2 separate regions of the Homo sapiens genome follow, and region 1 is linked to region 2. The links come from fine-mapping of genetic effects on gene expression. A gene starts in region 2. The other region holds a variant in brackets. All regions are shown on one strand. Distances are between the middles of the regions.

Region 1 (2,929 bases), 87 kb before region 2:
ATAGAATTTCTGCATAATAATCCCTGAATGGCAGGACTGCTGTCAGCATTTGAGGTGATATTTGCCGTTTCTTTGGTCCAAAATTTAGTACATACAAGGGACTCAATAACGATTAGATATTGTTATTAGTTGTCCAGAAAGCAATCTGCTTGCACCAGGCCTTTTGCTCCTGGAACATCCCATGTTTTTAACTTCGCTGATACTTTGTTTTGCTCTAGAGGGAGTGGAAACTAGCTTAAGGAGGTGAAAACATATCTCGTTATGAAATGGCAATTCATTTTCCTAAAACTATACAGGGAATTCAGTTTCCCCATATCTAAAAAGAGTGGGTGGGCTATGAAATATCTAAAAAGAGTGGGTGGGCTATGAAATATCTAAAAAGAGTGGGTGGTCTATGAAATGGAATGGGTTAAAGACTTCTCTGAAGGCCTTAATTTCTAATATAGCGGTTTGTATCTGCTGTGTACGCAGATGAGAGTTGTACCTAACCGAGGAGCGGGCGGTCCTTGCAGCGTGGGCTCCAGGAAAGGAAAGGAAGCCTTGACGCAGCATCATTTATGGACTTGAACACTAGGTGTCGCTCGCGCACTTGTTTTCAGCCGTAGGATTCAGAGACGGTATTTTAGGCTTAGACCCAACACTTGATTTACAGTTCTTCCGAATCTTTGCCCCACACTTATACATTGTTTTCGGATGTTTGTGCCAATCTCCTGCTAACCTATGCTCTCTGCCTGAACCTCATTCACCTGCCTCAAATTTCTGGCTTATTGAAGAACAGAACTCCTTAATTCCATTTCACTGCTTTCTAGGTCTCAACATTTTTGCTCTTCTTTTCTGAGAAGTGTTCGGCAGTATACCATATCTACACTCCCATCCATAGGCCTCTTAGTGCACCAGATCCAAAATATCTTATATAAAGGATGATATAAATATCTTACATAAAATATAAATGTATAATGTCTATAAAATATCTTTCAGTATCTTTTAATATCTAAAGTACCTTGTGTAACGATCTTATACAAAGTATGACATCTTATATAAAGTATTATATAAAGTCATTGATTCACTGAACAAACATTATTTAGTTTTGTGTGCAGCATAGAATCATCTTATGTTTTGATGTAAACACTCAAGTATTTGTTCCTGATGTATTCAGAAGAATATTTAGGGAATATGAAAATTCCCTAACACATATAAAGGATATCGTTTATCCACTGGAGTGTATAGATAGGATAATTTTTCTAAAAATATAAGATCTCTCTCTTAGAAAA[G/A]GATAAATACATTCTGTGTTGCTTCTAATGTTTGTCAGGGGAAGGAGGCCACATTGAGTTCTATTGTGAGAAAAGAAGCAGAATGAGAATGAGGTCTTTTGCATGGAAGGGATAATGAGAGTTTGGGCAGAGCAGGAAGAGACTACTAAAGAGGGGACGAAGTCAGCAAAAGGATGGACTTGGCTAGGGAGAGCCTGTATTCATGCCCCTGAGAGGTCTGAGCGTGGTTGATGACCTGGAATGGGTGTATTCTTTGTGTCCAAACCTGTGGCTCAGGGATGACCTAGCTGGGCCAGCTGTCCTCATTAAATAGTCATTATTTTTATTAAATGGAGGATCGTGCTTCATTCAAAGTCAATAACAGCTAGTATCAATGACTAAGATATTGACTGCCTAGTAGTAGCAACATCCCTGCCTACACCCAGAGATATTATCAGCCAATTACCTCATCATCTGGTTATGGGGGAATCTGTGTTCTGCGCCATGCCTTGAGCATGACACATATTTTGGCAAACCTATGTCTAGGTTTCCTTTCTGCAATACCATATGAAATAGTAAACTCGAGTGACCACTGGACTTCTAATGGGATGAGCAGTGTGGCAGAAGTTTCTGTTTTGCTAGGACCATCCTAACCTAAGAAAGTCATGAAGTAAACTCCACAGTATCGTGTATGAAATTCTATGCTAGGCATTGTAGACTAAATAGAGATGAATAAGACTTGATTCCTTATGTCTGATTCCTGTTTATGGGGCAGAATGGATACTATGGGTCCATGATAAAGTGTCAGGTCAGGAGGGGAATACATTGGGGTAAGTATTTCCCTACTTGAGACAGTAAATGCAAATAAGGTTTTGTAAGTCCCTTTACTCTTAAGGTAGGGCTCAACTCTGTTTTAATACATTTCTGACTTCTGAGTTCATTGGTTTATGTGTGAAACAAAAAGATTACTTTCTTAATTTCTTGAAAAAGTCCAATATCATCTGTAAAGTCTTTTGTTGATGTTATATGATATCACACAGAGGAAGAATTATGGGTTGGATCGTAATACTATTAGCTTGATGAGTTTCTGGCTGAACATTGAACCACACATTGCTAATCTGATATGTTTTCTGCTGGTAAATATCAGAGCCTTGTTGTGGCCCGTATTCTGTTCAATACGTTCATCAGGGATTTGGATAAAGATATGAAGGACACACTCACCAAACATGTGGATGACACAGAGTTAAGAGGGTTCATGAAAAAAAACCCTAAATGACAGAATCAGATGAAAGCGGTCCTAACATGATAGAAAGATGAACCAAACTCTAAAAGAAGTGTGATAGAGATAAACATTAAGCACTATATATATAATATATATATATATATATATATAACTTTAGTATTGTTAACCAAAATAAACTAGGTTCCTGCACTAGGCCTGACAGACCAAACCAACATAAAGTTGAACTCCAGGAGCTGAGCTTTAGTTACTGCAGGACGCTCCGTAGCCAGTTAACCAATGAAGCTGTATCCAATTCAGTTTTCTGTACACCGTACTTCTGTTTCCTATAAATGCTGTCAGATCATGTTATTAGTTGGAGTTCTCTGAACCTGCCCTGGTTCAGAGGACTGCCTGATTTGTGAATCATTTTCATTCTGTTTTTACTTTGCTTTGCTTT
Region 2 (2,929 bases):
TTTCCAGAATTTTCTCTCTAGAGCTGGTAGTAGGATCTGTGTGTAAGGCACTGGTTCCAGGAAAGGTGAGATTAGCAGATATCTTTCATTATAACTATACCTTTATGTCAAAGCCAGCTAAATGAAACTATACACTAAAGTTAAAAGTTTAAAAATACTATGATTATGATTGAAGGACCACTTATAACCACCTTTAAAGAATAGTTTTGTGGCTGGGTACAGTGGCTCATGCCCGTCATCCTAGCACTTTGAGAGGCTGAGGCAAGAGGATTGCTTGAACCCAGGAGTATGGACAATGTAGTGAGACCCTGCCTCTATGAAAAAAAATGTAAATAAATAAAGAATAACTTTGAGTTGATATTAACTCTGGGGACTCACAACACTGCTTAATACAGATTAGAAAATATTATCAGGCAACATTTTATAACAGTAACTATTATTGCAGAGAAAACATTTTGGGAAAGGTGAACACCAGTGAGAAAGAAAAAGGTAGTTGGGTTATATGAGCACAAGTCTATAGATTTTGGAACAGAATTATGCTGTATTATTATCTAATTATGTATCCAAATCATCGTGGTCAAGTAAAAGAAGAAATTCAGCTATAGGGAGAGGAGGTGGCAATATGGGGTTTTAAACAAAATCTCTATCTCTACTCTTATCTATCTTATGCTGAGAGGTGCAGGGTCGAGTTATCCTAGATCTTAACTTAATGAGAGTCCTGGAGGGGAAATGGGAGCCCAGTGGAAGGAGCTAGAGGTGAAATCTTGGATTTTAGGGCCCTGCAGACACACAAACCAGAAGAGAGTGAATGATCCTTATTAAGGGGTCTGCAGAAATGAAGGAATTTCTTAAGAACCCCTACATGTACCAGGTGCCAGAAATAGTAAGTTCCTCTTCTAAGCTTCCTTGGTTTTTCTTGCTCTGTGCACAGCCCTTCCTGCTTAGTCTGTAATGAGCACTTGTTTCTCTGCTTAATCTGTAACTAGCAAACCTCTTACTCTGTAAACAAGCCTTCCCACCTAGTTGGTAAGGGACAGCCTCTGCCTTCTCCCCTAATTGGCCTTACTCAATTTCAAATACTAGCCAATCGGGTCAGCTTAGACTGTGTGGTCTGACTCCAGCCAATGGGGAAAGGACTCAGAACAGGAACTGTGTTAGGGATAAAAACCCCTGCCCTACCTGGCTAGGTGTGCTCTTGTGATTGTGACTGACACAGGCAGCACCCTTTTGCAGAAGTAGATGTGCGTTGCTGAGAAATTTTCTGCCTAAGTTCTGGTTTTCTTTGCAGCACCCAGCATTTGTTTCTAACACAGGGAAAGAGTGAGCTGGAGAAACCTCTCAAATTCAAGAAAGCGTAAAGCAAATTGAACAATACGGGTGAGGTAAGAACTTGACTTCTCTAAGTTTTTCCCCTCTACCACCCTCTTCCTAAAATAATTACAGGATGTAGAAGCTAAGATGAGTAGGCTAAGGAAAAAATTGGTAGGAAAGAAAGAAGATGCCAGAAGATGTCAAAGGTTTTTGCTTCCAGCAGACTCTAACTAAATAAATGTTAAATTAATGTAAAAATAAATATGGGCTTTTGATTATTACATGGAACAAGATCATTTAATTTTTTAACTGATTGGAGTTTAAAATTGCAGTTACTTAAGATTGACCCCTAAGTTTTGAGACTTCCCAAGTCTTTATTCCAGGTAAGTGGGAAGATAGAACATTTTAGAGAATATCTTCACTTTAATCAGGTTGAACCTTATATAGCTAACATTTTCTTTTGTCTCAAAATTATGAGAAAGGAAAATGTCATATGAACTCAGAAAAGTAATAGGATCTAAACTTGAACAAGTAAAAAAATCATGATTTTTCAATTCTCTTGTGTATATAAATTACTTAGACCAATCTTTAGCAAAAATAAAATGAGAACTGTTTTATAAACAGTAAAGCGTCTACAGATTATTCAAGAAAGAAACCTTATCTGTGAGTTCTTTGAGAACAAAAGCATTTTATGACAGCTGTGAACTAATTAGTGTCATTAGGTATTAAAAGGCAAGAACAACAAAAAACAGTGAGCAGACCATATAGAGAAGTTAGAGGACTGGAAAGAAATTAGGCATGATGTAAAGTTTAAGAACAGTAAAAACTAAATATCATTTGCATTGAAGAAAAGGTGTTTGAAAATGATGAGTTCTGTTTTTTGTTTGCTTGTTTATATTTTTCTTTTGGTAACTTTTCTTACCCCTCCCCCAAAACTGTTAAGTGCTTCATTAGTAAACAACATGATGGACAGAAAGGAGGAACACATTATGAATAGTTTTGGCTTAGAATTATGTGTTAGTTTATAATAGCATGTCTAAAATTTTTGAGTTGTATGTAAAATGCTTAAGAATTTTTAATAAAAAATCCCAGTGTGTTGTGATATCTCTTGATCTAAAATAGCTAACATCTGAATTTTATGATTTCATGCAACAATTTTATTTCATTCATGATTTTGTGGGTCAGGAATTCTGGAAGGGCCAGGCTGGGTGATTCATCTTTGCTCAGGTTGGCAGCAGTAGAAGCTGTGGGATACACTCAAGATGGCTTCTCCACCCCCATATCTGGTGCCATGGTGCTCCCTGGCCTCTCTTTCTTTCCATACAGCATTTCCAGGGCCTCTCCAATGTGGCCTGGGCTTCTCACATACAATGGTTTCAGGATAAGTAGCTCAGGGCTCTGGAAGATCAAGAAAGAGACACTAGTTCTCCTACAGGCTGAGTCTGGAACTGGAGTGGAATAATCTCTGATGCTCTCTATTGTCAAAGCGTAGTCCACCAGTTTAGATTCAAGAGAGAGAAATAGATTCCACCTCTGCATGGAAGGAGGGTCAGAAGTTTTTCAGCTTTCTTAACCCTCCACACTATAGTTTATCAACCTTTAAGTTTGTCGAGCCTTC

What was found. PIP is the estimated chance that this variant, and not a neighbour inherited with it, causes the effect.
Region 1: its variant is fine-mapped to the expression of LINC01612 in lung (TOPMed, PIP above 0.99).

The regions. Positions count from the first base shown.
Region 1 is chr4:170,138,213-170,141,141 of GRCh38, forward strand. No RefSeq gene overlaps it. Among named protein-coding and RNA genes, the nearest start is that of AADAT, 50 kb to the left of the region's middle. RefSeq lists silencers at 426-720, 491-640. The variant G/A (reference allele first, on the strand shown) is at 1,272.
Region 2 is chr4:170,225,402-170,228,330 of GRCh38, forward strand. LINC01612 (long intergenic non-protein coding RNA 1612) reads left to right here and starts at 1,190. Exons shown (of 3, transcript NR_125889.1): 1 at 1,190-1,382.